Linked DNA regions of Homo sapiens: all the other regions are reported to be linked to region 5. The links are microRNA targets in miRTarBase. Many come from high-throughput screens and were not tested one by one. Region 5 holds a microRNA gene; each other region holds the end of a gene's coding sequence.
What was found. Region 5 holds the annotated microRNA hsa-miR-4768-5p (AUUCUCUCUGGAUCCCAUGGAU, at 2,609-2,630, shown strand). A microRNA usually pairs through its seed, bases 2 to 8, with sites in the 3' UTR of a target mRNA and lowers its output. Matches are read on the target gene's strand: a 7mer-m8 pairs with bases 2 to 8, a 7mer-A1 pairs with bases 2 to 7 and ends in A, and an 8mer does both.

Region 1: miRTarBase lists ZNF90 as a target of hsa-miR-4768-5p. Seed matches in the 3' UTR shown: 8mer at 3,863-3,870, 7mer-A1 at 2,313-2,319 and 8mer at 2,189-2,196.
Region 2: miRTarBase lists TMEM174 as a target of hsa-miR-4768-5p. Seed matches in the 3' UTR shown: 7mer-A1 at 3,304-3,310.
Region 3: the mRNA of FBXL16 is a reported target of hsa-miR-4768-5p. Seed matches in the 3' UTR shown: 7mer-m8 at 1,756-1,762, 8mer at 2,377-2,384 and 8mer at 2,399-2,406.
Region 4: miRTarBase lists PLPP3 as a target of hsa-miR-4768-5p. Seed matches in the 3' UTR shown: 7mer-A1 at 2,442-2,448.
Region 6: the mRNA of ZSCAN23 is a reported target of hsa-miR-4768-5p. Seed matches in the 3' UTR shown: 7mer-m8 at 952-958 and 7mer-A1 at 1,951-1,957.
Region 7: the mRNA of ANKRD18A is a reported target of hsa-miR-4768-5p. The part of its 3' UTR that is shown has no 7-base or 8-base seed match.

What each region holds. Positions count from the first base shown.
Region 1 is chr19:20,118,763-20,123,272 of GRCh38, reverse strand. ZNF90 (zinc finger protein 90) reads right to left here. Exons shown (of 4, transcript NM_007138.2): 4 at 2,108-4,510. The coding sequence ends at 3,913. Among named protein-coding and RNA genes, the nearest start is that of ZNF90, 43 kb to the right of the region's middle.
Region 2 is chr5:73,173,899-73,177,898 of GRCh38, reverse strand. It overlaps TMEM174 (transmembrane protein 174), which reads right to left. Exons shown (of 2, transcript NM_153217.3): 2 at 2,756-3,839. The coding sequence ends at 3,734. Among named protein-coding and RNA genes, the nearest start is that of TMEM174, 2.7 kb to the right of the region's middle.
Region 3 is chr16:690,796-695,305 of GRCh38, reverse strand. It overlaps FBXL16 (F-box and leucine rich repeat protein 16), which reads left to right. Exons shown (of 6, transcript NM_153350.4): 4 at 230-314; 5 at 609-672; 6 at 883-2,806. The coding sequence ends at 1,031. Among named protein-coding and RNA genes, the nearest start is that of WDR24, 2.7 kb to the right of the region's middle. RefSeq lists an enhancer at 4,480-4,510.
Region 4 is chr1:56,492,481-56,496,897 of GRCh38, forward strand. It overlaps PLPP3 (phospholipid phosphatase 3), which reads right to left. Exons shown (of 6, transcript NM_003713.5): 6 at 2,281-4,196. The coding sequence ends at 4,071. Among named protein-coding and RNA genes, the nearest start is that of LINC01767, 80 kb to the left of the region's middle. RefSeq lists an enhancer at 1,597-2,255.
Region 5 is chrX:17,423,281-17,427,790 of GRCh38, forward strand. It overlaps MIR4768 (microRNA 4768), which reads left to right and starts at 2,601; the gene lies at 2,601-2,674. All of the region lies in intron 1 of NHS (NHS actin remodeling regulator), which reads left to right.
Region 6 is chr6:28,430,799-28,435,308 of GRCh38, reverse strand. It overlaps ZSCAN23 (zinc finger and SCAN domain containing 23), which reads left to right. Exons shown (of 4, transcript NM_001012455.2): 4 at 231-2,654. The coding sequence ends at 844. Among named protein-coding and RNA genes, the nearest start is that of ZSCAN23, 10 kb to the left of the region's middle.
Region 7 is chr9:38,567,997-38,572,449 of GRCh38, reverse strand. It overlaps ANKRD18A (ankyrin repeat domain 18A), which reads left to right. Exons shown (of 16, transcript NM_147195.4): 16 at 391-1,086. The coding sequence ends at 405. It also overlaps the pseudogene SNX18P3. Among named protein-coding and RNA genes, the nearest start is that of FAM95C, 25 kb to the right of the region's middle. RefSeq lists an enhancer at 2,919-3,588.

The DNA of each region.
Region 1 (4,510 bases), not on the chromosome of region 5:
CCCTGTCATAGGATCCTTAGATTCTCCCTACTGGAAGCAACATGCAGAAGGGCAGGAATGATAACAATGTACAAATATGTTTTCTGCCATGTGGTCACCATAAGCAGCTTGCAACATGGCCCACCTAGAAGTCACTTACTTTCAGGCAAGCAGGGGTGTTTTTCTATGATGTGTCTTTCTCTTAAAAGCACCTCTGATTAAGTTTAGCACAGTCAGGACAATCTCCATTTTGATAAACACAAAGTCAACACATGAGTAACCTAATTTCTTGAGTGATTTTCCCACCAGTTGCACATTTTTTTACACTCAAGGAAAAAGTATTACACAGCAGGTGTGCAACAGACTGGGAATCCAGCGTATTATCTTAGAATGTTACCTACCCACTTGAATAAAATTTTAAAATAGTCTTTCTGCTGTTTTGTTATCTACGTAAACAAAGACATTATGTGCAAATAATAATTAACTACTTTCCAGTTTTATTCATTACAAATATTAGCTAACATCTTTTTTTCTGGCTTAAATTATTTTGTCCTTATGTACCAATTTATACATTCGCACACACATAGAACAACAAAAATATACCCAATTATATACTTTTGGTTACATTTTCATTAAAATAAGTGTTATAAATAATTTGTTTGTTTGAAGAGGGCTTTTATTGTTGTACTCAAGAGTGTTATTTATGGAGACAAAATTGCCTGTGCTTCAATAGGCAGATTCTGGAAAGAATTTGAAACATAAGCTATAAAATTTTACATTAATAAATTCAATACAAAGCAGAAAGTGTAGATTTGCTTTCAACATTTTGAAGGTGTTTTCTGTTATTCACCAAATTAAAATAAGTTGTTTTGTTTCAATAATTGTGCTTTTCTTCTGAAAATATGTACCAAAGCAAACTCACAAATACACTTACTCACTTTATATTTTTCTTACACCTAAGGTTTACCTTCAGAGTAATATGTGGATATTTCACTCTATGAAAATTAAAACTAAAACTCTTGTGTTTGCAGGCAGAGAAACCACAAGTTTATAGAAAACTATGTAACAAATATTTATTAATAATTTTTCAGGACTCAGAAATGTTGCCTAGGCTGGAATGCAGTGGTGCAATCTCGGATCACTGTAAACTCCACCTCCCTTGTTCAAGCTATTCTCCTGCTTCAGCCTCCACGCAGGTGCTCCTATGCCTGGCTAATTTTTATATTTTTAGAGACAGGGGTTCCCCATGTTGGCCAGGCTGGTCTTGAAATCTTGACGTCAGGCAATCCAGCTGCCTCAGCCTCCCAAATGGTTGGGATTACAGGCATGAGCCACTTCATCTGGCCATATTCTTTTTATATTTCTGTATAATTTTTATTACGACCATAAAAATAACCCTGTAGTCAATTAAAATTTAATTGTACATTTTCAAATAACTAAAAGTGTATAATTACACTGTAATACAAAGGATAAATGCTAGACGTGATGGATACCTTATTTACCCTAATGTAATTACTACATATTGTAGTCCTGAATCACAGTATGCCATATAAAGCATAAACGTAAACACATACTATATACCCACAAATACTAAGAATAAATTTCTGTAAGAATAAAAATTTAACCTATGGGAAAAATATTCTTCAACTCAATTAATTTAAAGCCACTGGCAAAGTGATTACTAATGATGTTATTCTACTATATACCAAATAGTATACTGCTACCATCTTGTAACTATACCCTTGAGTAAGGTGGGATAGGTTAAAGTTAGTGGCATAATATGGCTTCATTAAATGCAAAATAGTCTTAATATGGTAAAAAATAAAATAAAACTAGGCCAATCTCAGCACTTTGGGAAGCCGGGGCAGGTGGATCACTTGAGCTCAAGAGGTCGAAACTAGCCCGACTGATATGGTGAAACAATTAGCCGGGCATGGTGGCACACACCTGTAGTCCTTGCTACTTGGGAGACTGAGGCAGGAGAATCGCTTGAACTTGGGAGGTGAAGGTTGCAATGATCACACAGAGATTGCGCTGCTGCACTCCAGCCTGGATGAGAAAGTGGACTCCATCTCAAAAAAAAAAATAAATGGATACAACAAAATTAACTTCACACACAATCTAACAATTTTTTAATGTAGTGTATTTTATTACATAAAATTAGTAAAATAATACAGTAATTTAATATACCTTTAACTGTAATTCATAATTTCTCTCACTATAATGTAGAAAAGTATTACTCTGAACACTACCTTATACATTACTTAATATAGGTCAAATACGAACAGCCTGTCCACTTATATTTTCATCATGCATCTTACATTTTAATATCCTTTCTCTTTAATAGAAAAGGTTATAAGGAATGCCCAATAAAGAATCTGTAATATCTCTGATGCAGCATCAATTGATCACATGCTTTCACATGTGAATAGAAATAAAGTAACAGCATAAATTTGAAAGCTCTATTACCTTATTCACTTTTCAAAAATTTTTTCTCAAGAAAGCAAGTATACTTTCAATGTAATTACAATGCTTCAAAAAACCTTTTAAAGCTATATATAATTTATCTAACAATTTTTGTTGTGGATTCTTTTTTATACTCAACACTGTTTTAGTGTAATGTCTGAAGTATCAGTGCCTTATTCTACTGTAAATTCTCTGATATTTACATGGAATTCATTTTGAATTAAATATTTTTTATATTTACTGTTTCTGCAAACATATATTTTAGTATCAACTCTCTGGTGTTTTCTAAGCTGTAGTTTTTGAAAAAAAATTTGTTTCCAAATTCACTACATTTGCAGGATTCTTCTCTAACATAAATTCCCTGTTGTTGAACAAAGCTGGAGCAACTGCTTCAGGGTTTTCCTCTAGTACAAAATGTGTGCAATGAAATCTGTGATGCAAGTAAAGGTAATACAACCCCCTTTATATGTGTAATGGTTGTCTTCAGAATACTCTTCTTCACTTTAAAGGCTTCTATTTTCTGAAAGATTTCTTGAGCATAATTGCACTTTAAATGCTTTCATTAACTGTGAACCACCTTCTGTTGGGTAAGATGTGAGTAGGCATTAATGGGTTTTCCATATTTTTTATAATTGTGCAATTTTTCTCAAGGATACTAGCTTTCCTGTGAAATAAGGTGTATGCACTGATTAAAAAGTTTTCCCACATTCTTCACACTTGTAGGAGTTTTGCCAGTATGAATTATCTTACCTACAATCAAGTCTTGCAACCATATAAAGGATTTGTCAAATTTTCTATTATTTCTAGGGTTTCACACTAGTATAATCATCTTTATGTACAGAAAAGTTGGAGGTGGTGGTAAAAGCACTGTCACATCTTTCAAGTTTGTAAAGTTCCTCTTCAGCATGAATTATCACCATGTCTCTTAAGAACTGAGAACTTGTGGCTGGGCATGGATGCTCATGACTGTAATCCCAGCATTTTAGGAGGCCAAGGTGTGTGAATCACAGTTGGAGACCAGCCTGTTAAATATGGCAAAACCCTGTCTCTACCAAAAATACAAAAATTAGTTGGGCATGGTGGTGGAGGCTGAAGCAGGTTAATGGCTTGAACCAGGAGGAAGAGGTTGCAGTGAGCAGAGATCGTGCCATTGCACTCCAGGCTGGGTGAGAAGCATGAAACTCCTTCTTAAAAAAAAAAAAAAAGAATTGAGAACTTGTTATAGGCTTTGCTGCATTTTTCACACCTGTAGAGTTTCCGTCCAGTATGAATTATGTGTAGTAAGGGTTGAGAACTTCCTTAAAATGATTTGTCACATTCTTTATTTTTGTAGGAGTTATGTTTCATATAAATTCTCATATTTAGTAAGAGTAGAGGGGTGGTCAAAGGCTTTCCAACAGTCATCACATTTATACGGTTTCTCTCCAGTATGAATTATCTTATGTTTATTAAGGGTTGAGGAATATTTCAAAGATTTGCCATGTTCTTCACTATGTAGGCTTTCTGTCCAATATGAATCCTCTTATGTGTATTAAGGTCTGAGGACAAGTTAAAAGCTTTGCCACATTCTTCACATTTGTAGGGTTTCTCTCCAGTATGACTTATCTTATGACTAGTAAGCTGTGAGGAGCGCTTAAAGGCTTTGCCACATTCTTCACATTTGTAGGGTTTCGCTCCAGTATGAATTATCTTATGTTTACTAAGGACTGAGGAGCGCTTGAAGGCTTTGCCACATTCTTCACATTTGTAGGGATTCTCTCCACTGTGAATTATCTTATGTGTGCTAAGGGCTGAGGAGTACTTGAAGGCTTTGTCACATTCTTGACATTTGTAGAGTTTCTCTTCAGTATGACTTATCTTATGTGTAGTAAGGTTTGAGGAGCGCTTGAAGGCTTTGCCACATTCTTCACATTTGTAGGGTTTCTCTCCACTATGAATTATCTTATGTGTGCTAAGGGCTGAGGAGCGTTTGAAGACTTTGTCACATTCTTGACATTTGTAGGGTTTCTCTTCAGTATGACTTATCTTATGTATAGTAAGTGTTGAGGAGCGCTTGAAGGCTTTG
Region 2 (4,000 bases), not on the chromosome of region 5:
GGAATGTGACTGGGATCTCTGGAAAGCCCTCCACCTCTAGAAGGCACTTCCCAGAGGGCAGTGAAAACAGAGCCTCCTTGCACAAGAGATTTGCCCTCCAGTGGCCCAAAAAGGAGAAAGAAAAGTCCTGAGAGCTTTGTGAAAGCTTCTTCCCCTTGGTGTCTGAGCCTTGTTTCTCAAACCTGGATGATCCCTTTCCTCTCCATCAAAACCATCAGCTGTTATCAGTCACTGTAGGCAAAAAACCCAGCCCAAATTGCTCCCAGGAGATAACAAGTTCTTAAGAAACTCGTGGCTGGGCGCGGTGGCTCACACCTGTAATCCTAGCACTTTGAGAGGCTGAGGCACGCAGATCACCTGAGGTTGGGAGTTTGAGACCAGCCTGGCCAACATGGAGAAGCCCCATCCCTACTAAAAATACAAAATTAGCTGGGCATGGTGGTGCATGCCTGTAATCCCAGCTACTCAGGAGGCTGAGGCAGGAGAATCGTTTGAACCTGGGAGGCAGAGGTTGCAATGAGCTGATACCACGTCATTGCACTCCAGCCCTGACAACAAGAGCGAAACTCCATCTCAAAAAAAGAAAAGAAAAGAGAAGAAAAGAAAAGAAACTCGTTTCCTGTAATCAACAAGACCTTTTAACTTTATTTTTAATTCTGTGTAGATCCACAGAGCATGCCCACCACATGGCCCCTCTCCAGGCTGAGGATGGAGGAGAGGGGAGAAATGGCTCCCGATATTCTGGTCACTTAGCTCTGAATGTCACCAGCAAAGTGAATATTATACCCGTATATGCCCTCTGGGTCTTGCCCTAACCAGTCAATGTGCAAAATGTGATCGCAGCTCCCTCTTCAAAAAACACTTCCATGGCTTCCCAACTGCTCTTTAAACAAAGCCTAAAATGTTTGACAAGACTGACAAGGTTGACCAGGCCCTGTGGGTTCTGGCTGGACACCAAACCTTCAGGTACCCGCCTTGAGCCAGGGCTGCTTCCTCCACTGATAATCTAAGGGAGAAGAGCATAGCCAGGAGCTGGACTCCAATCAGTGCCCCAGATCATAGTTTCCCATGGTTCATCCCTGATGAGATACTGAGTGAAAGAATGATAAAAGGCAAATATCTGGACAACAAAACAGAAACTCTGTCGAGAATGTGTCCTGCTGGTCAGAGACGTAGCAAGGACCTGGTTGGAAGTCAGAGTTTAGGAGCCACACAGTGGGCTTCCCATCAGATTGGCCCCTGAAATTCCCAAATAAAGAAATAGAGAGCATGAGTGGTTGTCTCAAAGCAAGAAAATCGGTGGGTGTAATTTCTTGGTTACTGGAAGGCACCTCTGTTTGAGGGTTGCAGCAGCAGAAAAATAAAAAGGTTTACACAACCTGCTGAATGCCTCATAACACTGCCTCCCACATGGGGCTCTGCCAGGCCCCTCCCTCCTGCCCTCTCCTCTTTGTCTAGGAGACAGCCACTGTTCCTTTAGCTCCTAGCACAGTCTCCACAGGTCCACAGACACCCTGTGAACAGTGCTTTCTGGGATTATGCAAGGCAATGACCCTGACTTCACTTCCGAAGCAAGCCTCATGACCCTTTAATGAGTCCAAATCCCTCTTAGGGCTACAGGACTTCTCAGTGGTGTCAGAGAATAATTAATAGATGATTAATACAGATAATGAATCCGTATCTTTCTCCCCCACTAGACTACTAGACTAGAGGCTCTGCAAGGGCAGAACCATGTATGCTCTCTTCTTGGTGACATTTTTAAGTTATATTTCCACCTGATGGACCCAGACCGACACAGAGTAGATGCTCAATAAATAAATATTGCACTAATGAACAAATTCCTGTTTTCTGATCCCTGACTGCTGCAGATCCTACTCCTACCTCGAGCTCTTGAAGCCATTAGCCCTGAAGCACTCTCTTTGGAAGCATAAATGACCTCTACATTAGCACTTTTCCCTCTGTCTTGGAACAGGAATTGTTGGTGCCAGAAAATAACCATCCCAACCCTCCAGGCCACCTCCCTGCATATCTGACTCTAGGCATCTCCAAGACAAACTGGCTGCTCTGCCCTACCCAGCTGTATGTGGGGATGCCCTTTTCCTAATAACATTTTCTTTTTTGAGCTACTTTTGATGTTCATTGTAGCCCAAATTTATGAACATAAAATTATGGGGTGGGTGAAAATGGCAGGGGGCTGGGGAGAGACAGTCAGAGAAGCACTCAAGGCAAGGGTGGCATGAGGGGCCCAAAATGTCATCTGCTGGTCAGCATGCCACTGGTGATGCTCAGCCTGGTCCTTGTCACCAAACTTCTTCTCCAAAACCAATGGCCCTCAGCTAGGGACCAGTGTCTCAGGGATCTGCTGAACATAAAGCTAGTTTCTTTAAATGAAATCATTTTCACTTATCACCTATCATCAAACATGACAGTGTATGTGAAAAGGTTTTGTCCCCAAGATATAACATAAATGACAACAATAATATACCAAGCTTACTTCACTCATATCCTTGGAAACCTAGATACTTCTGATCAAAATTAGTAAAAGTTGCTCCATATACAAACGCTATGTCAAAATTTTTTTAAGAATTGCTTAATCCTGTGTCTTCCTTTAGGATGTACCACCCTTACCTTGAGTGGCATTGCCTTTGAAGCCCAAAGCAAATATTTTCTTTTAAAACCTAATGGTTTTAAACTGTCTCTTCTAAAGTCTGTGAGTCAGTTCCAGTTGTTTATTACACAGCCAAATTCAGAGAGATTAAGGACACCAAAGTTTTTTTAATGAAGAAGATGAGTTTCTTTTAGTCATAAAGATTGTTTCTATCATATCATTCCCCATGTGTTGACATGGCAACTCTGCTCTGTCTTGCTCCACAGACCTACGGGTACTTAGGGAAGTCCTGTGTTCTGTCAGCCACTGGTCCCAGCTAGTTCATGCTTGGCGCAGGCCCCAGCCTGGGGTGGACCAAGAGCCCACCCATGTTCATCACACGTCAAGCTTCAACCTTGCAGAAGAGAACAGCAGCAGCCAAGGGTCACTGTGACTCAGTGATCGGGAAGGATGTATTCACAGCGCTATCCTATTATGGTCTATTTTGTGTAATTTAGTCAGGTATCCAATACTATTCTAGCAGGAGACATGATTTATTTTATTTCATTGGTTTGATGTTTTTGTTTTGTTTTGTTTTATAGTCTTTAAGGTACCCAGAGTCCTCAGAGAGGCCAGATGGCAGCTGAGTTGTTTGGGATTAGTGAGTCTGCTTTGGGGCCAAGGACAGCCACCAGGAAATCTCCAGCTGGGCCTGCTTTCTCTTCCCTGCTTCCTTCCCACCCGACTCTCACCTCTGTGGAAACTCCCAAAGTCTCAGAAGTCGTGATTTTTCCATTGGCTGCTGGGGTTAAAATTGAGCCACCAATGCCTTCCTACAGAGAAGGGGGAGGGTGGTGGATGAAAAAGTGAAATTCCTGCTCCTGAACCTTATACAGGAGATTTCTTACCCGAGGGAATTTGAAACTGTTCCGGAGGAGAATTTCCCCAGCCCAGCCTAATTTTTACCAATCTGAGAAATTGCACCTCCCACTTCCCCTTTCCCCCCTTGAATGATCTCTGTCAGGCTGCCTGGGCGCTGCTGTAACTTCTGAAGGTTACAACATAGAACACCACGGTTGTCAGGTAACAATGACGGAAACACTTGCTCCCTGAGCTGAGCATTGTGTTATTATATCAGAATAGCCTCTAGCGAGGGAGAGAGTATATTTCTTCATAAGGGGGAGGAGAGAAGCAGGCACAGGCCTCCTCTTCCAGCTGTGTCTCTTCTAGCTGGTCAACATCAGGATTGGGCCTGAAATGTGAGCAGAAAACACAGGTACATTATGGTCCAAAGCACCATTCACAGAACCAAGGCTGCCATCGTGGGCAACAGGCTAAGAAGAGATTCACAGTCTCCCAACACCTTATTCATGGACCAAACAGCCACAGATCATGACGGAGATGGCTAGAAGG
Region 3 (4,510 bases), not on the chromosome of region 5:
GGCTGTGGCGCGGCGGGCAGAGCCCTCGGAGCCTGGGGAGTGGGAACCGCAGAACCGCAGCACGGGTTGGCTGGACCCCCGTCCTTCCCGGTGGGTGGGAGCGAGGAGGGGCCAGCGGCTGCTCCGGGTGGGGCAGGAAGGGATTCACGCCAGGGGCACTCCCAGGAAGACGAGGGATGGCCGGGGCCAGGTGATTTGAAGGTGGGGGTCCCCTCTGGTGCAACCACAGGTGTGTACGCATCACGGACACTGGCCTCAGCTATCTGTCCACCATGTCGTCCCTCCGCAGCCTCTACCTGCGATGGTGCTGCCAGGTACCGGCTCTCACGCCCCGGGATTGGGGGATCGGCGGGGAGGTGGGGGCGCGGGGAGAGCTCCCGGCCCCACTCAGATCCTGGGAGAGTCTGGGGCCCCTCCCTATCCAGCAGCCGACCTAAGCGGAACGCAGGGGTCCCGGCGGCCCCCACGAGCACTTCCCAGCCGCCTCCCGGCTCCGGGGGGGACGGAGGAACCCCGGGCTTGAACCCGCCTAGCCCTCCATGGACCCCAGGGTGCCCTCCGCCTCGGTGCGAGCGGAAATCGTTAAGTCGCTCCTCCACTCCCGACAGGTGCAAGACTTCGGGCTGAAGCACCTCCTGGCCCTGGGGAGTTTGCGCCTCCTGTCTCTGGCAGGTGAGACCCCCGTTTCTGCTCTGACGCTGGCAGTGACCACCCACCCCCACTTAGTCCACCCGCCCAACCTGCCCGGTCCTTGTGCAAACTCACACCCGGCGCGGACACACAGTCCCGGGTCCGAGGCGGAGGAGGAGGGAGGCGCGGCCCGGCCGTCCCCGCCCGAGCCCTGGGCCGCGCGCACTGAGCCGCCCTCTGACCCCGCCGCAGGCTGCCCGCTGCTCACCACCACCGGGCTGTCGGGCCTGGTGCAGCTGCAGGAGCTGGAGGAGCTGGAGCTGACCAACTGCCCCGGGGCCACCCCCGAGCTCTTCAAGTATTTCTCGCAGCACCTGCCCCGCTGCCTCGTCATTGAGTAGCGCGAGGCCCCCGCCCCGGTCGCGGGAACCCGGCCATGACCTGGGCGGGGGCGCGGGGCGCCGCCGAGCCCCCTCTTCCCGCCTTGCGCTCGGGGGAGCCCCCGCGCCCCCGGCCCAGCGCGGGAGGCGGGGCGAGCCGAGGGAAAGCCCCTCCCCGACCTTCGGTCCCTCCGCCCTCCCAGCCCCGCCCCGGGCAGGGGGGCGGCGGGTGGGCCCGCCCCACGCACGCACGCACACTCGGGGACTTTGTGCATGCCCCTCGTGCCCGCACTGCACGCCGCCCTCCGCCACGCCACAGCCACAGCCGCCGCCATCACTCGCTCGCCCTCCCGCTTGGGGGGCGGGGCTCGGTCCTTGGGGGGGCTTTGAGCTCTCCAGACTGTGCCCTTACCGCCTTCCCCGCCACACCCGCTCTGTCTTCCCACTGTCCCCCCCATCCCGGGCAGGGCCCAGTGGGATTGAGGGGGCTGGGTCCCCCAGGACACGGGCCCAGAAGAGCCCCACGGGCTTCCTGCATCTTCCACCGCACCATACCTGGAGCCCTCCGAGGGGTGTCAGGGGAAACAGGCCACCGCCAAAGCCATGGCCCGCCGCCGAGAGCCCAGGCCCCACCCGCACCTCCTCACCCATCCAGCCTGACCCACGCGGCCTCTCCTCCTCCTTGCCGCTGTGTGGGGCAGTCCCCTGTCCGCCCCAAAACCCGGCCTTGGTCCCTGGCCAGGCTGAGAGAATTGGGCAGGGAGAGGGCGGAAGGGCTGGCGATCGCTTGGAGTCATTAACGTGATCCCAGCTGACTCCGGTCGGCCTCAACCCAGGGGTGGCGCAGGCACCTTGCAAGCCTCGAGCTGTAGCCACCCTCAGGCCTGGGAAGAGGCCTGGGCCGACCTCACACCTCAGCCCTTGCACCCGGCCGGGCTCAGTTCAGGCCTGGGCACCGAGCTTCACCCTGGGTGGGTCTCCTCAGGTGGAGTCTGCAGAGTGGACCCAGCCAAGGGTCAGGGTCAGCACTGGGTCAGCGACTCCAATCTTCCAGTGGCCAGCACACCCTAGACACCCCGAGGAGGGAGGGCTCCTTTCTAGCCTGCCCCCCCACCCCCACTTCACCCCTCCCCAGCTTCCCAAACTTCTGTCTGCCCAAATGGGCTCTGACCGTGCTCTGTCGGCCCGAGACATTTGGAAGTCCTGGGGGATGCTGGCAAATCTCAGCTGTTGCTGAGGAGGGGGCTGGGACCCCTTCCCATCCCAACCTTGAGCCCCAGGAGATACCGCGCCCACACCCAATCTTGGGACACTCCCTATCTGGTTGGAAGAGAGTAACCAGTTTCCAGAGAGCCAGAGAGTGAGAGAGAGAAAGAGAGTGAGAGAGAGAGAGAAAGAGAGAGAGAGATGCTGTTGAATCAGAAACAGATCAACAGCCCAAAGATTTTCCTGTCCCTGGAGTGCCAGCCCCAGGAAGCTCCAGGGCTGAGTGGTCAGGAGCCAGTTTCTCCAGCCCCTCCTCCCCACAACCCCTAGTGGGGAGGGGCAGCTGTCCATTTGCCCAAAGTATTAATGCAACTGAAGCTGTGATATTTCCAACGACTGTAGGAGGAAAAATTAAGGGGAGAGAGGAAAACAAAACCAACCAACCCCTAAAATCATTTTCTTATTGTACATAACGACCTCATTCTCCTGTATATGCGGAAGATATAACCTTATATTTGGTAAGTGTTTCTTGTGCTATTTTATCACGTGACCTGTTTATAAAAATATATATTAAAAAAGTTGTAAAAACATGTGTCTGAGTTGTTTTTAGGTCCCCAGACAGCGGTGTAGGTGGGCATATCTGCCCTGCGCATCCCAGGTCTCGGGATTCTCCTGTACCTCTTATCAGATTTATTCTTTCTTGCAACAAAGGGGTAGAGGCTGGATGCCGACATGGTAGAATGGAAACAGCAGTGACTACATGGAAGGCAGAGGACCTCCCATTCCTTAAAGGGAGAGACAACACTGAAGTCACTACACATAATATTCCCTCCAACATATCCAGACTCTAGCCCACCCTTCCAGAGAGGCAGAAATAAACCCTGTTCTATACACAGTAACAGGCAAGGACAAGGATGTCGCAAAAGATTACAAAATGCACCAATAGCAGACAATGGCTCACACCCAGGAGAGACAGAGAGGTCGAAAAAGGCAACTGAGGCTGGGCACAGTGGCTCACGCCTGTAATCCTAGCACTTAGGCCGAAGCGGGTGGATCACCTGAGGTCAGGCGTTCAAGACCAGCCTGGCCAACATGGTGAAACCCTGTCTCTACTAAAAATACAAAAAATTAACAGGGTGTGGTGGTGGTTGCCTATAATCCCAGCTACTAGGGAGGCTGAGGCTGAATCGCTTGAACCTAGGGGGTGGAGGTTGCTATGAGCCGAGACTGCGCCACCTCACTCCAACCTGGGCGAAAGAGCAAAACTCCGTCTCAAAAAATTTTAAAGAGACCGGGTGCGGTGGCTCACACCTGTAATCCTAGCACTTTGGGAGGCCAAGGCGAGTGGATCACCTGAGGTTGGGAGTTCGAGACCAGCCTGACCAACATGGAAAAACTCCATCTCTACTAAAAATACAAAATTAGCCCAGTATGGTGGCCCATGCCTGTAATCCCAGCTACTCGGGAAGCTGAGGCAGGAGAATCGCTTGAACCCAGGAGGCGGAGGTTGCGGTGAGCCAAGATTGCACCATTGCACTCCAGCCTGGGCAACAAGAGCGAAACTCCGTCTCAAAAAGTTTTTTAAAAAAAAGAACGAGAGCAACTGGTTGAACAGGTGTGTCAGGCACTGGGCATTCGGTGGGGATTGAGCCAGAATGTGATTCCTGCCTTGGTGGAATTCACACTCGTATGTGACCGACAACAACCAGTAAACAAACGAATGGGTGGTGACAAGTGCCGTGGAGGCCACAGTGATGGAGAAGCCCATTAGGGCAGTGGTCAGGGAGGTCCGCTCTGTGGAGGAGGCATCGCACGCACGTACAATGTCCCTGAGGCAGGAAAGGGCTTGGTGGGCTGGGAATGGGGGTGGAGGCTGCCATGGCTGGAGGTGGGCAGGGGAAGGCGGAGGCCAGGAGTTGGGGTTCATTCACAGCATAGTGGGAGCTGCCAGAGGCCTCAGGCAGAAGACCTGGTGCCTGACTTCTGTGCGGGTTTCTGATCAAAGGGGAAAGACGGACCCAGGAAAGCCGTTGGGAGGCTGCTCCCGAGGTCGAGGAGTGAGGAAGGAGGGGAAGACTGGGGGCACTCGGAACTTGTCTAGGGATGACCAGATGTCATGATGGACCTGGGGATTAAAATAGGTGATGGCATTAAAATACTGAAATTGAGACTTAAAAAACAGGCCAGGCGCGGTGGCTCACACCTGCATTCCCAGCACTTCAGGAGGCTGACGCCAGAGGATCGCTTGAGTTCAGTAGTTTTAAGACCAGCCTGGCCAACACGGTGAAACCCCG
Region 4 (4,417 bases), not on the chromosome of region 5:
TGAAAATTTGGCCTCTGGCCTTAAGGATCTTACTAGCTACATTTTGGGGCTCAAACGGACATCACCACTTATATAAAAATGCTGTGAAATTGCTGAGCTATTCCAGGGGCTGGAGGGGACTGCATTGTCCAGCAGCAAAGAGCAGGCTGACCTTGGTGGCAAGAAACCAGACATGAGCCACTTGGGTCTATTTCCAGGCCTTGAAGCCAAATGGAGCATCCCTGGCTGGATTTTTCTTTCCTTTTTTTTTTTTAGACAGAGTCTCACTCCACTGCCCAGGCTGGAGTGCAGTGGTGCAATCTCGGCTCAGTGCAACCTCTGCCTCCTGGGTTCAAGTGATTCTCCTGCCTCAGCCTCCAGAGTAGCTGGGATTACAGGAGTGTGCCACCACACCCAGCTAATCTTTTGTATTTTTAGTAGATGAGATTTCACCACGTTGGCCAGGCTGGTCTTGAACTCCTGACCTCAAGTGATCTGCCTGCCTCGGCCTCCCAAAGTGCTGGGATTACAGGCATGAGTGAGCCATCATGCCTGGTCCCTGCTGGATTTTGAAGTTGCTGGGGACTGATGACTTCTTTTTTCCGTCTATTTCTCTCTCTCTCTCCTTTTTTTTTTTTTTTTGAGACAGTGTCACTCTGTCGCCCAGGCTGGAGTGCAGTGGCGGGATCTCGGCTAACTGCAAGCTCCCCCTCCCGGGTTCACGCCATTCTCCTGCCTCAGCCTCCCAAGTAGCTGGGACTATAGGCGCCCACCACCACGCCCGGCTAATTTTTTTGTATTTTTAGTAGAGATGGGGTTTCACCATGTTAGCCAGGATGATCTCAATCTCCTGAACTCGTGGTCCGCCTGCCTCGGCCTCCCAAAGTGCTGGGATTACAGGAGTGAAACATCACGCCTGGCTTCTCTCCCTTTTTAAATAGGAATGTCTATAACTGTTATTCTATGCCTGTTTCACCAGTGAATTTAGGGAGCAGATAACTTGTTTCTTAATTTTCACAGGTTCATAGAGAGCAATGTATTCCAGGGTGGATTAAACATGGAGCCTCCTTTTTACCTAATTTGAATGGGTTAGTTTAGATGATGAGATTTGGGGTGTTTAAGTTGTTAAGATTTAGGATTTTGACTTGATACTGCCATATCCTAGGTCTTTAGGGGATGTGGGGATAGGGTGATCTGTTTTGCATTTGGGATGGATGTGAATCTTTTGAGGGCCAGAGGGTGAACTCTGGTACTCTGAATAATGGTTCCCGAAATATGGCCATGTCTTAGATCCCTGGCATCTGTGAATATATGTTCCATGGCAAAGAGGAATTAAGGCAGCAGATTGAATTAAGTTTGCCAGTGAACTGACTTTAATATAGGTGATTATCCTAGATTATGAGCAGGTCTGTGTAATCAGCAAGGAGGGCCTTTACATGTGAAAGGGGTGGCAGAAGAGGAGAACCAAAGAGATGGCAGGGTGAGGACTCTACCCAATGTTGCTTCCTCCATGTGAACATGAAGAGGGCCACAAGCCAGGGAAAGTGGGTGGCCTCTAAAAACAGAAAAGGCAAGGAAACAGCTTCTTGCCTAGAGCCTCCAAGATTGTAAGACAATACATCTATGCTGTTTTACGTTTGTGGTAATTTGTTATAGCCGCTATAGCAAATTAATATAAGACCTATCCTACAATTTAATGCTCTAGGATCTTAGACTAATCATTTCATCTTTGCATTCTTTAGTATTCTTTCTTTCTCAAAATAACTGCTGTGAAGATCAGACAGAACAAATAGGCAGAAATCCCTGGCACACAGGTGCTCAATAAATGTGAATTTCTAGCTTCCCCTTTTCTTCCAGGTTGGAGAAACACAAGGAAGGGAAGCAGGAGCCACAGGCCATTCTCAGCCTTCCTTTGATGTGGGCTGTGTACAGGATTCCCTCAGTAAGCTCCCCCAGCATACCTTATCTAGAGTGAGGGCTGCTTATCTGCCCTCGGGGTTCCTACAGCTCCTACCTCTCTGATGGAAAAATCCTCTTTAGAATACAAAAGCTCTTTAGAAGAGCCTGAGATGAGGGTAGAGCCAGGGCCTCATTCTGCAAACAGGCTTTCAGAGATGAAAGAGCAGGGCAGACATCGGTATCTACCCTATGACCACCACATTTCCCACTGAAAAAAATCAGGAGTTGGTGCGCTGAGATGAGGCAAGCCCACTCAAAGAGGCCAGCCCGCGATGCTTCCTTCTCCTACCCACACACCTGAGACAAACATCTCTCAAACACTCCAGGCTTGCAAGTCCTTAATTAGTTGTGTTACGAGCTTTTATTTAAAAAGCACATTTAATACAAGTATAGTTTCGCAGATACAAGTTTTCACTTTGTATGCTACAAAAGTCTTTGAATATTATTCTCTTTACAAAATGGAACCTTACAAAAATACTGACAATTTAATGTTTTTATACAGTTTTCTCTAGTTGCAGTTATTTCATTATAAAACAATGTCTACCACAGAACTATGATATTTTAGTTGATATTTAAAAAAATTAACTCAATGCTTTTTTAAGCAGCTAATGTAAATAACACAGGTCGAGACACAGTTTATAATCATAGTGGATATAGCTAAATTGTTTCAGAAATAATATCTTACATAGTTAACTTTTAATGTTTTATACATTATTTATATAATATTTATATATAAAAATCATAGCTTGCTATAAGTTGAAATGAAAGGACGGATTCTGTAGTAAGGATGTGCATGTGGTTGATCCATATGGTTACATTTAACCCTTTGAAAGGTCTGCATCCAAGATCTAAACGCATTTCTTCCTTCCTCCTTTCCTCAAAGGTTCAGTAGAAGGGGTCCCTGTCTATCACCTAGAGTGGGACCTTGCATGGAAGGACACTTACGGATAGAGGATGAGGGAAACTCTCTACCGAGATTTAACCCATATGTTCTGCCCAGCAGAACCTACCAAGAACTGCCCTAGGGCTCAACCCCAAGACAATAGTGCTTTACACAGCAAGAGCAACTCCTACAAAGACCCTCAGCTCTGTCATCCTGAAGGGTAACCTCTCATGCATGAGACTGCCTGCTTCTCTGGCTCCTTCTGATTTGCAACAGCTAAAAGGTTGGTTCGATTTTCATTCTGCCCCCTTCACCCTCCCATCTGTTGTACAGAAGGCTGCTTTCCGTCAGCTGGTGGCAGACCATGCCTTGCTCATTCCTGGGCCCTCACAGGAAATCCTGGTGGGCACGCAGCAAGGATTTCAAGGGAGAAGGCAGTAACCGAAGTCGAACTGTTTCTAAGAGTATGCAAGTGCCCGGTGATTGACGTGCACAACATCAGCATCCTGCAATTGACATTTCAACATCACAGGATGATGCGTCAAAAGAAGAAAAGTGAGGGCCTGTGCCCTCGATTTCTTCTGAAATTGTGCTGTTTGTGAAATTCACTCGTCCACAAAGAGTCTGCTAATCACTAATGTGAGGAACTATGGTTGTTGGCCTATGGGCAGGGGAGGTGATAAGGCCTTAGAACTGGGAATCTAGATTCGGGATCTGATCACTTGACTGAGCAAACTTGCTCTTTCCTTTTATTTAAAACACAAAACAAAACTTCCTGAACTAAAGTCACAGTACAGAATAGAATGGGATGGACAGAAAGACTCAAGAGGGCAGCTCCGCAATGGCTATTTTCTTGATTCAGTGCTATTTCTGGCATCATGTGCTGCAATGTGAATTTTTGCTTTTCTCACAGGCCTGGGATTCCTCAGGTCACAAAAGGTGACCAGCAGCCTCTACTCAAATCGTTTTAGTGTTTGTTCCTGAACAAGCTGTGTTCACTAGAACATGAACACTTAAACCAATTGCACATCCAGGACTCTGGCACTTGGTGTTAGTTTGCTGTTGTTTCCACATAGGCAAACACTACCTATTTTGGAAGGCCACATAGTAAAACATTTTTTTTTTCCTTTTTAAAAATCAGTCGGGCAAAAGTTTTTCCCTACATTCTACTGTCTGATGAGATTGGAGAGCAGCAAGAACTTGCTGTCAGCAGTCATTTTACAAAAACAGCTCAGGAGGTGGGTGGCACCTACATCATGTTGTGGTGATTGTTCCTGTCAATAATGTCCACAGGTGAAAGGATTTCCTTCCGGATAGCAGGGGCAGGCAGGGAGAGCGTCGTCTTAGTCTTGAAGAGGTCAGACACGAAGAAAACCTAGAAGCACAAATCAGAGATCGAAGTCAGTAACTGACATCGGGGGTCTGGGTACAGAGGGAAAAGGAAGGTCAGAGGAGCGCAGACTTCAGGAAAAGGGGCCCCAAATCATAACTCTTTGAATAGGGAAGGACAACAGAGATCATATCATCAAGGTTTATTGTACAGATAGGGAAACTGAGACCCGGGAAAAGGCAGTGACATGTCCCAGGTTGCACAAC
Region 5 (4,510 bases):
TATCATTGCATGTGCTGTCTTCATCAATGGTTTAAAATATCAACCAGGGTGAAGATATAAGAGAGGAATATCGAATCATTGCTTAGAAGAAGACTTGAGCAGGCATCTCCTCCTCCTCCATCTAAGCTTCAAAAGAGGCCTCCCCTAACCAGACAGTCCAGTGAGATAATGAATTAATTAGAGACTTGGAAGGGTTAGCATGAGAGCCTTGTCTGTCTTGCCTCTGGCCCTCTGTCTGCTCGGCTAGATCCTGGTTAGGAGCTTTTGGCAGTCCTCAGGTTGGGGATGAGATACCTTGGCAGGCTTGAGTGGGCATCAAAGACACCAGGAAGGATCCCAGCCCAGTTTCTGGCAATTCTATCTGTCACTGGGTTTTATGCCTGTGTTCAAAATATTCCATTTCTCCATCTGTAAAATGGAGATAATCCTTCCTCACCTTGCAGGGATGTTGGGAGGATTAATTAGCTAGTGTTCCTCAAGTGCTTTGAAGATGAAAAGGCTTGTGGAAGTGCTAAGTATTAAGGCAAGGCAGCGAATGCCTGCTGGAAGTGCTCTTCCTTTCCTCATCCTCTTGTCAGCAGTTGTGTTTCTCTTGCCTTTTCTGCATATTTCACAGACCAAAGTGCTGGCATGGTAGGTAGGACAATGCATGGATCAGCACAGAACAAAGACAGTAATGCCTTATTTTATGCCTTGCTACTAACTTGGCTTATCAGTTGGCATGACCTCTGAAGATCTTTTTGCTCTGAATGTTTTAATCATCAAGTTCTGGTGGTTATCCAAGGTGATCCTAATCTACTTTGGGGTGGAGGGAGGAAGTGGTGTCAGGAGAGATCAAACCAGGCCACCTTGAGCTGAAAGCTCTGAAGGAGAAGGATTCCTTGAAATGGAGGTAATTTTTGAATTATAATAAGTGAGAAGACTGCAAGGGAGACAAGCTGAGGGACAAATGCTCTGTGCTTTTCTCCTCACTTTCACAAACAGGAGGAGAACTTCCACTGACCTAGCAGTAGTTTGCTCCTCCAGGCTGTCATGTCTTCTGATCATGTCTTTTATGAGGTGAATTTCTCCTCATGAAAGACTAGACTTTAAGGAGAGATTCTGTGCAGGTCCCTACAGTGTGGAGATGGATTGATTGGGCCTACAGATTGCAGCTAATCAATTCATCCTTTGCTTCCCAAAGGTTTATGCATTTGGGTGGAGTTCACAATGAGTGGTCTGGGTGCAGGGCCGTGTGGAGAAGCATGTCCACCGCTCTTGCCCCGGTGGCTTCTTTAGATAATCTTGCAATCTTCACAGGTTCTTTTCTAGGTATGTTATTGTTTGGAATAACTCCCTTGAGTTTGGAAGAAGAAAAGGAATAGTACCAGGTTTACTCAATCATTTGTTAGTTTGCTTGTTATCTTAAAAAATTCTATAAAATTCTTTTGAGAAGTTTCTCTGCTCATTGATCTTGAAAATCTCCTTGCTTTAGAGAATGGATGTGCTCCTCATATGCTAAGGATAAACCAGATTTTGGTAAATCAGGTTATCTTAGGGGTCCCAGGTGAGTTTGCCATTTTAACGATGCTTAGAGTGAATCCTTGTATAAGGGAAAGTATCTTGTATATTCTGTATCCTTTAGGAACTCACGTCTGTTGACTTTATCAGATGTTGGGGTGGTGGTGAGGCTAAAGACCAATAGGCGACATATGGCAGGATCTTCCCTCCAAGTGACCCTCTGGAAAGGGCTATACTTACTTAATTTTGGTGGAGCTCATCATAGGGTCAGGAAACCAGGGAGAAAGCTGAGCAACTGGTATTTATAGATCTTTCTCTTTAAATCAGGTTTGCTCATGATTTGTCTGGTCTTTATTCTTCTCCATGTCTGAAACTGAGTTCCTTGGATTCCCTTCTCTTCAAAGCCCTCTTGGCAACCTTCTGAGGAATGGCAGAGTTCATTCTGATCCACGTCCGGTGAGCGTAGCTCAACCGTGATGGAGCTTGACCTGTCAAATTCACAGAAAAATGTCCGTTACATATTCCAGCTGTTCCTTAAACATGCTCCCTAAGAGCTAGTTCCATTTGTTAGCTGTCAGAACGATGTGGAGGAATTGCTCCAGACCCTTGGATGTCATCAACCACTTTTGTTTATACACCAGTTATTTTCTCTATTAGCAAATCAATGTTTGGCAAAAAGAAAGCACAGGCTAAGAACTTTTCCTGATGAGTTGCTGCCCCAGCCTTGGAACTCTTCTCAGCCAAAAAAAAAAAAAAAAAAAAAAAAAAAAAAAAAAAAAAAAAAAAAAAAAGAAAGAAAGAAAGAAAGAAAGAAATTGAGGAGGAATTCAGTTTTACATGTTTTCCTTCCTGCTTACATGAACAGAGGAGGCCTACCTGAAGCTGAATCCAAGCACTGCCTTTGACGTTGGTAAAGATGGGGCTCTGAGCTCACATATCACCTTGGAAACTGGATCCTGTTACTGCTGGGAAAGGAATGCTTGGTTGCCAAAAGCATTAAGATAGGGAATGTGGATTCCACCTCTCAGTGCTCCTGCCTTGGATCAATTAGGTAGGATACTACCCAGAGATACAGACATGATGGACCAAGTAACTTCTCCAAACTTTGATTCTCTCTGGATCCCATGGATATGGGAACTGTGATGTCCAGGAGATCCAGAGAGAATCAGAGTTTCAGTGAGTGAAACCTAGAGTGTGTGCTGCTAGGATTTTCCTCATAAACCTGGGTGTTTTATTCTTGTGGGCCAGAAAGTTATTTCATTCCTAAACCCGTGATGTAGACTTCTCAGAAATTCCAGTGGTGTGGAGGATCCAGCTTCTATCAGCTCACAAGAGCTGATTGCACATATCTCTCCCCAACTGCTGTTCAGTGGCATCAAGTTGGTAGCTTGAAATCTGCCATGATGAGAGTATTTACACTATAGAAATTGGCAAATATGGCAAATAAGGGTCCCCACCACCCATGCTTGTGAAACATCTTCCAGCACACCAAGGAAATTATCCTAACACGTAACATCACTTATGGGGGCTGTTTAGCTTCAGGGGAGGAAATCCCCTTTGCTCTGATCTCATTGTGTGTACCTGCTTTGCATAGGCAGACTACCCCTTGTTCTCTCATCTATTAAACTCGACCTGAGAGAGAGCTTCATGAGATGGGTTGTGTGACAGGAGATCACTAGGGTAATGAGTCTGTTCCTTTCGCTGCTCAGCTATATGACAGGTTATTTTACCTCTCTAGGCCTCAGCTTCCTCTTCACTATAATAAAAGTAATTTAGATCATTAAATAATTGCTAAGTTTCCTTGTAGCTTCGACATTCTGCAATTTGATGAGTGCTTGGCTGCTGGAAAATGTCATGTGTTTCAAAGGCTTGGGGCACATGCACATCATTCACAGTGACCAGCTGAGCTCTCTCATTTTCTTTCTGGATCTTGGACTCCCAGTAATTCTACTTTTATCTGGACTTCTATCTTCAGCATGAATGAGCAGGGTGCCTCTAAGTGAGAAGCATAATTGATTAGTTCCTTCCATCTGGGGGTGTCAAAGCACTTTCAAGTCAGTAGTCAGTATCCATCATGGTTGCTCTGCAGGGAAGACTGCCTGAGAGTGCCTGTTTTGCAAGGGACATATCACAGTGGTGGACCAAGGACCCAGAATTATTGACTTGTCTTTTAATCAGAAAAGGGGCTACTTCCTGGTCTTAAAGAAGTTCCAGCTTTGAGATTAATCTGCTGTCTATAACCCCAGATCACTTGGCATGCTCGGCCTGGCTGACCTGCTGACAGAACTTGATATATTTCCCATCTCTCTGACATGGAGATAAACCTGAATAGGATTTTGCTAGTTCAGAGGATTTGGGGATACATGTTTAGGTAAAGTTTTCCTATAAAATTCCTTAAAAGAGGTGTGGTGTGGGTTTTTGTTGGGAATTGAGGCTACACTTAATGGAATGTGGAAGAGACCAAATCCACCTTTATGGGGTGCCTGGATGGAAAAGGTGTACTGATAGGAAGTTGGGACTGACCACAGACTTGGGCTGCTTTGTGATTTTGCTTACAGTCTTGCCAAGACCTAGCATCTGCCAAAATACGTGTCTCTGGGCCCTCTCTACCGAAATGTACACATTGACATGCACCAACTCATGCCGCTGTTGTTATGATTGTGTTTATGAAGCCATTTACTCTTGAATCAAGAACCTGAGTGACTTGCTGAGTGTTTGTAGGTTTATTGTCCACTCTGCCAGCTGACTGGGCTGTGTGTGTTCAATGGCTGAAGCCATGATTCCCACAGCTGAAGGTTTGGTCCATTGAGTCTGCCACCATAAAGCACAAGCTATGTGAAGGGCTGGAAAAGAAATAAATTCTTCTGGGATTAACTCCAAAGCAGAAGTACAGTTCTGTCTTGCACAGATAATAGAGGCTGGGTTCAAACTTCTTGGGGTCAGACTGCCAGCTGTGACCCACATTGGAGGTCTACCATCTTTTCTTGTTGGAATACTTCCTAAGAATATA
Region 6 (4,510 bases), not on the chromosome of region 5:
AAGTTTACAGTCTAGTGGGAGAGGCAGACAATTAAGTAAGCAGTTATAATACCATGCATCTTTTCCCTGAGGTCTGGGTATAATAGCTTTAGAGTGGAAAAATAAACAGAAAAAGTGGCTACTTGTCCCCTTCCACCCATTCTCCTGGCCACTTTTTTTCTTTTGTCTTTGGAAAGATAATCTGTTATTTTTCATACTTCATGTTATCTTTCATGTTATCGTTATTTTAGATGGCAAGGCTGGGACTTGGAATGTGGAGTTAGCCCCAAAGAGGGAGATTTCTCAGGAAGTGAAATCTCTTATACAAGTTCTTGGAAAACAGAATGGTAATATTACTCAGATTCCTGAGTATGGAGATACCTGTGACCGTGAGGGCAGATTGGAAAAGCAAAGGGTGAGCTCTTCAGTGGAGAGACCCTATATCTGTAGTGAATGTGGAAAAAGCTTCACCCAGAATTCCATCCTTATCGAGCACCAGAGAACACACACAGGTGAGAAGCCTTATGAATGTGATGAGTGTGGGCGGGCCTTCAGCCAGAGGTCAGGCCTATTCCAGCACCAGAGACTCCACACTGGGGAGAAGCGCTACCAGTGCAGTGTTTGTGGCAAAGCCTTCAGCCAGAATGCCGGGCTTTTCCATCACCTCAGAATTCACACTGGGGAGAAGCCTTACCAGTGCAATCAGTGCAATAAGAGTTTTAGTCGACGTTCAGTCCTCATTAAGCATCAGAGAATTCACACTGGAGAGAGACCTTATGAATGTGAAGAATGTGGCAAGAACTTCATTTACCATTGCAACCTAATCCAGCATCGGAAAGTCCACCCAGTGGCTGAATCAAGCTAGCTCCTTGGAACAGGTAGGGGATAATATTTCTTACTTTGTCCCTGCTGTGTCCTCTAGCATAGAAAAGTTCAAGGGAAAGCCAGTAAAAATTCCCTTACTTTTATGCAGAGAGAAGCATAATATCTTAAATACATCTGCCGAGTTCTCTGATCAGTGACATCCACAGCTTTGCAATACTGAATGTTGCCTCTTGTGTTGATTTCATCATGTATGCTGTAGACCTAGTTTCACACACATCTGTGCAAGAAGTTTTCTATTTCAGGAAAACTTCTTCATCCTAGTTTTTAAAAACTTTTTTTAAAAGTTTAAAATAGTTATATGTAGGCTGAGTACAAAATAATCTCAAATGCAGTTCACCGAGTATTTAAAAATTAACTTAAAAATAATTGTAATAAAATTCATAATATAGGTTTCCTGACTTCTTTCCATTCACATAAAATATGATAATTTGTTTTGTAACCTACAAAAAGGGGCAGATGAATCCTCCTATATAAATGTAGATTTATAGTAAGTTAGATTTCTATAGATTTTTTAGTTAGCCTTTAGGAACCAAGGAACTGAAGCAGCCATATGTTATTAGCAGCTCAGTGGCTCCTCATAACAAATATTGCTCATGATTTTAAATTTACGCAGAGGCTAAGAAACTTAGCTAAAAATCTGATATCTCACCTCAGATTTCTTATTGGAAAATACAGGCCTCTTTGTATTTTTCCCGTAACATATAATGAGCATTTTTTTGTTTTTGCCTTTTTCTCCTTTATTCAATATTTTGTATGGAAAATTTGAAACATATTCAAGATTGAAGAGAAGAGTATGATCACTCTTTCATGTTGATTGTTTTTATAACCTCCACATTTTCTCAGCATTTACTATTGATTACCACCAAGATCATAAATAAAAAAATTTATTTCCCTTAACATTGACTTAGTAACTCTTTACAAAGCTTTACACAAGGTCCAGGAGACAAAGAAATGGAAAACCTATGGTGAAAACAATCTGGTTTGGAATACACCCAAATACCCAATACATAGCAAGTAACTTTAGAATAACAGAATCACTCTAAGGGACCTTAGAGATCACTTCTGCTTGCTCTTATTTGACAGATAAGAGAAAAGGAAGTTCTGGGAAGTAACTAAGATCATACAGCCAGTTAAAAGCAGAGCTGGAACTAGAACCCTGTCTCCTACTTCCTAGTGTAACATTCTATTAAGCCACTGGAGGCATTATATCACCAAATAAAAATTACAAGTATATGGAATTTATAGGATTTATAAGTCACTGAAGTTGCTCAACAAACCCACCCATTTATATGTTTCAATAAAGCACAACTCCTCTATTTAATTTACAGTGGAGTCCAGGAAAGACTCTTCTCATTTATTCCTCATTGAAAGCATTTTATTTTTGTAATTATTATTTTTAGCTTTTAAAATTTAATTTACTCAGTAGGACTTTTTTAAAAAGATAATTCATTCTTCACCTGGTTCAAAAATCAAAATAATACAAAAAGGTCTACTTTCCCTTTATAAGTAGCCATTGTACTAGTTTCTTATGTATCTTTCAGTGTTTCTTTATGTAAATATAGGCAAATATGAATGTATAATCTTATTTCTTCCATTACTCAGGAAGATGGCATATTATTTATACTCTTCTAATACCTTGCTGTTTTCATGAAAGAATATAATCTTTAGAGATGTCCACATCATAACAGAACTTCTTCATTCTTTTTATAAGTGAATAGAATTTTATTTGTTCATACTCCATAGTTTAACAAACTCCTATAGATGAAAAATCTCACTATTTTAAAATGTTACATATTCTGTTTCATTCTTTTCCCCAGTTTAGTCCAAGTTAAATTCCTTCTGTTCAAAAGCTAACAGCTTTCATATGAGCTAGGAAACAAGGCGTGGGCAACCAGAATTGCACATAATTCTTCTACAGAGAAATGGAGAAGTGATGGGTGGTATTTTTCAGTTTAGTGTATTTAGTTCTATCACATATTCTTACACCTTACATATCAAACTGTTTGTGTCACTACTTAAGGCTTATTGCGGGTATTATAAAAAACTTATATTTCCTGAAAAGTATTTTTTATTGTGTCTTGAGGTTAAATTATTTCCAAGATAAATAGCTACAGATTTTTGAGTGAAGTTAAGAAAAATATAGTAGACTCGATTTTGAAGTAAAATCAACTTCTTAAGTAAATATGTATTCCATAAAGTGATGTAATACATATTCTATAGTATTCTGAGTTTATAAATATCTTAAATGCTTCTCCATTTAAGATAATGAGAAAAGTGAAGTCCAAAGTGCTTAAGCACTTGTAGTAATCTTTCTGTCTTTTATTGCCTTAAAAATTTTGTAAAGGAAACCAATTATGAACAAAGATAATTGTGAATTATATATGGTTTCATAGACACTTACACTTGGAGCCCTGAGACCCACTGTAGGCATCTGCAAACAACAGCAACAACAAAGTGGGATGGAAAGAAAAAAGAACAAAATATAAGAACATAAAAAAGAATCAGACAGAAGGTAAAATTAGATGCTAAAACTCTAGATTGGGCAAAAAATGTTGACCAAAGGAAAAATAAAAAGATAGATGCAGAGACAGAGTGTTGCCAAGAAACATGCTTCATCTTCATAATAATTATTAGAAATCTCTCTTATTTATCAACTGGTCCAAGTTTTTAGATACTATTGTCTTAAGCAGTGAAAATCTCACTGCCTTTTACTCCTCACACTTTTTATTACTTTCCATAAAATGGAGGACAGGGAGAAAAGCAGTCTATAAACCACTGTGATTTTTAGATCTCCTTGAACCTATCCCCATTTTTCTATGCCAACTGCCAATGGGCAGTGTTGAAAGCACTATTTCTTGATGATAGCTGCACTAGAATCACCTGGGTTGTTGGTTTGAAGTGCAGTTTTCTCAGCCCCACCCCAGACCTACTGAATCAGTTTCTGAGGCAGAGCCTGAAAATCTGTATCTAATTAGCATATTAGTGGTCCACACACATAAGGTAACTATATAATTTATTGTCCAATCTGGGACACTTGAAAATGAAAAGGAGTGCTGTTAATAATTACACCAAGACAACAGGTATAAACCAGGAGGTACGGTCCCCATACTAATAATTTTTGCAATAGGCAGTATTTTTTCAACCAAGCATATAGAAAAGACAGAGAATCAGAAAGATTACAATGTTCTGTCATGAAAGCTAAGGCAGAATATATATGAAAAAGGCTGTTGGAGACTTAGGTGTAGCCACCTAGCCTGGTAACCCCCAGTAATAGATCTATTGGATTAGGAAAGAAAGGATGGGATAATATGTCTGCACAAACAAAACAGAGGGCCCCCCCATCCCGCCCCTAATTAAGACAAACCCATTGTTAACATAACTAGTTACCTAAGATTAACCTATTGAGTGAATGGTTTACCAGACAAGATGGACAACATCCTGGAAGCACAGGAGTGTTTCAGTGGTATAGGGACCGATGGAGTACAGTGTTCAACCTTATACTGTAGAAGAAAGTGAGAAGATAGAGTACTGGATCAGAGCTTGCAGTGTTAAGGCAAACAGTGAGCCATTTTAAGCAGGTAGTCGGATGAAGGGGAAGGGGGCAGATATTGTACCAAGTAGTTTCATAATTTATCACATTCACTCC
Region 7 (4,453 bases), not on the chromosome of region 5:
TCTGTATGTTCCAGTAGTGCCCTGCTGTATACCTGTCATGGTATCTATGACTCTATATGGACATTACCTGCCGGTCTTTTAGGTTATAGCATATGACTATTGGGAGGTGGACCATGCCATCTTCATCTTGTAATTCCAGTGCTGGCTCTAGTACCTTAGCACGTGGCTGTTGAGTACATGAATGAAGAATGAAAAAGCTGTGATATTTAACCACAATTGGAATTAACGCCATGTGTAAATGATTTAATAGTAATTTTGTATTGTAATTGCACGTACATATTTCTCATTCTTATTAACTCTGATAACGTTCTCAACTCCACATTTTAAACTTACACTTCGTTAACTGAAATGTTTTAGGTAAAGAACATAATCCTTTCTTTTTCTTTCCAGGTTTTGCTATGTTGAGCACTTGCTCCCGTCTACTTTCTTTTGTAGAATCCACTGGTAAGCCACATCTAATGAAGAGATTAACCATAAAATCTTAAGGAAAAGTTGTATGATTTAAAAGATCATAAAACTTTATTACTGGGCTATTTACATGAAATTTTAATTGTTTCTCATATAATATAAAACATCATAATCTTTACTAAAGTAGAATATTTTCATGTCACATATGGTGTATATTTATATGTTATTTTAAATGATGTTTTTTAGCCTCCTTAAGTTTTAAGTGGATCTTGCAAATGAACACCAGCGTTATTGAGTTTGGCCTACTCAAATTGCCTGAATGTCAGCTGTTTAAACAGCCAAACAACCAAGTCATCATTGATACTTTAGTAAAGGTCATCGAGGGCTTCTTTGCATTTTACAGTTTTTATTACCATATGTAGTAGGAGACTTAAAGAGTATCTGCCAGGTTTGTCCATACTAGTGTTACGGTTTTCTTCTTGTAGCTCAATAGTATTTTGTGTGGAGATACTTTGAAGCTCTGTAAATATCTGGTTACTCCTCAAAACCCACTAGATTTAGCATTTCATGGATGACTTGTGTTTGAACAAGTATTACTGTGATGGTTGCCAGATGATTGTTTTTCTTATTTTCTTCTTTGTTCTACATGGAGAAATAAAACCAATAAATAAAGGAGAAGGGAAAGCTCATGATTCTGGTGCTCCAGTTCCCCAAGATTAGGCCAGTGGTAGACATTTCAAGCTGACTTTATGTCTTTTTGAATTGTCCCCATTATTCTGTCAGCACTTTTTTACTTTCTGGCACAAGGTGTTCTAAACTAATGTATTTTCTCTGCGGCAGCACCAAGGAAGCACAGGCGAGCCCTTCCCATCATGCGCTCACTAGTCCCCAACAGAAGAACCACTGTCGCATCCACTGAGGTACCAAGAAACTAGCAAAGGGCCTTCTAGCTGTCTGGGGACAGTCCTCATGTGGTCCCTGGCTCAGCCTCAAGGGTTCTTGATTAGTCTCCCTGCAGTCTCTGTGCTGTGTCTCTAGGTCGGGGCTCTTCAGGAAGGGCCCTGGGAGACCCAGCAGCACAGGATGTCTTGTCTGCCAAATGTCCCTCCCTTCCTCCCACTCTGACACTCAGGAATAGGGAAGATGGCATGTCCAGGCAGTGCCAGGCCACCTCATTGTCTCCTTTGAGATGGGCCCAGAGGGCCTTGCGGGGTGAGTGTGAAGCTGGGTACCTGGAGCCTGAGGCTGACTCCCTCCCTGTGTCTTGGAGGAGAGGCCTTGCAGCCCAAGAAAACCCCCCAGGCCTGACCCCTGGGCACACATGCAGGGAGGGGAGGTTCTGTGAGCTGATGGTGGCATTGTAATGAGACTTTGAACACAGCTGCTCAAGGGCCTCGTCAGTGGACCATGGTCAGAGATGACCTAGCCATCACGACCTGGTCAGTTGGGACCTGATCAGCAGGGACCTGGTTAGTGGTGGCCGCCTCAGTGAAGGCCTCACCCAGTGGGTATCTTGTGACCTAGTCATTGGAAGCCTAGTCAGTGGGGACCTGGTCAGTGGTGCTCTTATTAGTGGGGCCTGATCGGTTGGAACATAAACAATAAAAAACTGGTCGGTGGGGTGTATTCAGTGTATTAGGGGTCTGGTCAGTGTGGGGCCTTAGTGGCTTGGAGCCTGGTCAGTGAGAGCCTGGTCAGAGGGGGCTCAGTCAGCTGGGGACTGATCCATGGAGAATTATTCAATGGGGGTGAGGTGAGCAGCAACCTGGTAAATTGTGGTCTTGTCAGTGCGAACCCAGTCAGTGGGGACCAGGTCAGTGGGAAATTGGTCAGTGGGGTCTGGTCCATGAGGCCTACTAATGGGGGCCTGGTTAGGGAGACATGGTCCGTGGGGACTTGGTCAGTGGGGCCTGGTCAATGGGGGAGTGCTCATTAGGGGCCTCGTTGGGGCCACCTGGTCAGTAGGAACCTGGCCAGTTAGCCGATGTGTGACCTCAGGCAGGGGGTTTGTCTGTGGAGCCTCTTTGCCTCCATCTGTAGGGAAGGTGAGTCAGGGCACCCTGGAGGGTGGCTGGAAAGAGAACGTGAGAAGATGTGTTGAATTCAGCACTGCTTGGCAGACCTCCAACTTTACACAGTACCTGGGTTCCACCTAGAAAGGGTGCCAGCCCTCTCTGCTCTGCTCGGCACCCCTCCTCTGTCTGCATCCCCAGGACCACCCTCAGTGGAGAGGGAAGAAATTGGGGAGCACCTGTGGGAGGCTCTAATCCTGGCCCTGGGCCCTGGTGGTGACAGTGATGAGGACCTGGGTGCACCTGTGAGTGGAGCAGCTAGGCCTGGCCAGAGAAGCAAGACAAACAAACACACCCATATGTACACACACACACGCATACACAAACACAATGCATGCACACATGTCAGTTCAGGGGATAGAGGACACCGACTCTGGGCCCTCTTGACCCAAGCAGGCTCCTGTTGTGGTGGGTTGTGTCACCCCACAATGTCACTCTTGCTGAGTCCCCATCGCCTCTGTGTTGTGGAGCAGTTAGAGACACGCAGCAGTCTCTGTGAGTGGCTCTGCATGAAGGATTGTTTTCTAGGTGAAAGGCACATCTCAACACAGCTGACTGATCGGACTCAGGTGAGTGGGACCTGCTCTCTTCTCTTCCTCCTGGCTTGGGGACAGTCGCTATCGGGTGGGTGGTTTTGGCCTCTGGGCAGCTACTGAGGGTAATCCCTGAGCACTCACCAGGTGCCTGTTCTGTGCTGACAGTCATCTCATTCATCCTTGCAGCAATTCCATTCTGCATCTCCTCTGGACACCCCCAGGACCACCAGGACAACCCCATCATGGCCCTGTCACCAGGCCCAGTCTCGCTCCGTGATAACCAAGATGCAGGTCCAGAGACAACCGCCCTACTTGGTTCCTGCATCTGACCCCCCTTGGTGGGTAGTGACCAGCCCAACATGGAAGAAGCCAGGGCAGCATGCAGCCAGCTGCCCTGCAGCCCCAGATGGCACCTGGGCCTTGGGAAGTCATTCTCAAAGGGGAAGCTGGAAACTTTGATGTCCCTGGAGGGAAGGGTGAACGTGGCATCCGAACAACCCTGGCAGCCAGCAGCATCTTGTCATCCAACCTGTGGGACAGAGGCCCCCTGCTGGGGAGCGAGATCCATACCTAAAGGGTCCTGGCCCAGTTGGGCCTCATCCTGGGCCCTGGGAGGGGAGGGGCACTATGGTCCCCCCAGCAGCAGTCAGCATTACCACCCAGGGGACTCAGCCTTCTGTGGCCCTGGCCAGAGTTAGAATTTGGCCCAAGACAGGACAAGCTCACTCAGAGCAGGGTGTCAGTACCCAGGACCTGTGCATGCCAGGCAAGGCCAAGCTGGCTCAAAGAGCAACCAGCCACCTCTGCAAGGGTGTGCCTGGAGCAAGTGGACCGGCCACCAACCTCACCCACTCAAGGAATCAGGGGTGGCCAGGTTCCCACAGCCTGAGGGGCTGCCACTTGACGGCTGATGGAGCAGAGGCCTGAGGAAAAGCAGATGGCACTGGGGCCCTACCTCCAGGGCAGAATAACTGATTTACCCTGACTGGCAGCGAGTGAGGTTGGTGGCTGGTCCACCTGCTCCTGGCACACCCTTGCAGAGGTGGCTGGTTGCTCTTTGAGCCAGCTTGGCCTTGCCTGGCATGCACAGGCCTCAATGCAACCACTGTGCTGCAGATGGAGCCACATAGAGGAAATGAGCAGCAGGCTCAGGAGCAGGCTGTGCGCTGCCTTTGGGGCTCCAGTCCATGCATGAGGGCTCCTACAGCACTGTGGGCTTCTTGGGTGCCAAGAGGCAGACCGCAGGCCATCTTGAGAAGGACTCCATGTTCAAGTGCAGAAAGGGCCCAATCTCGTGGATGAACCACATGGCCAGCTTCTGGGTGCAGGCACAGTGCCACGTCTTCCATCACTTCGTGATGTGCCACACCAGCACTGAAGAGACAGCCTGGAGACAGGGCAAGAGGAAGGCTGCGAAGGATGAGGTGGTGAATTCCA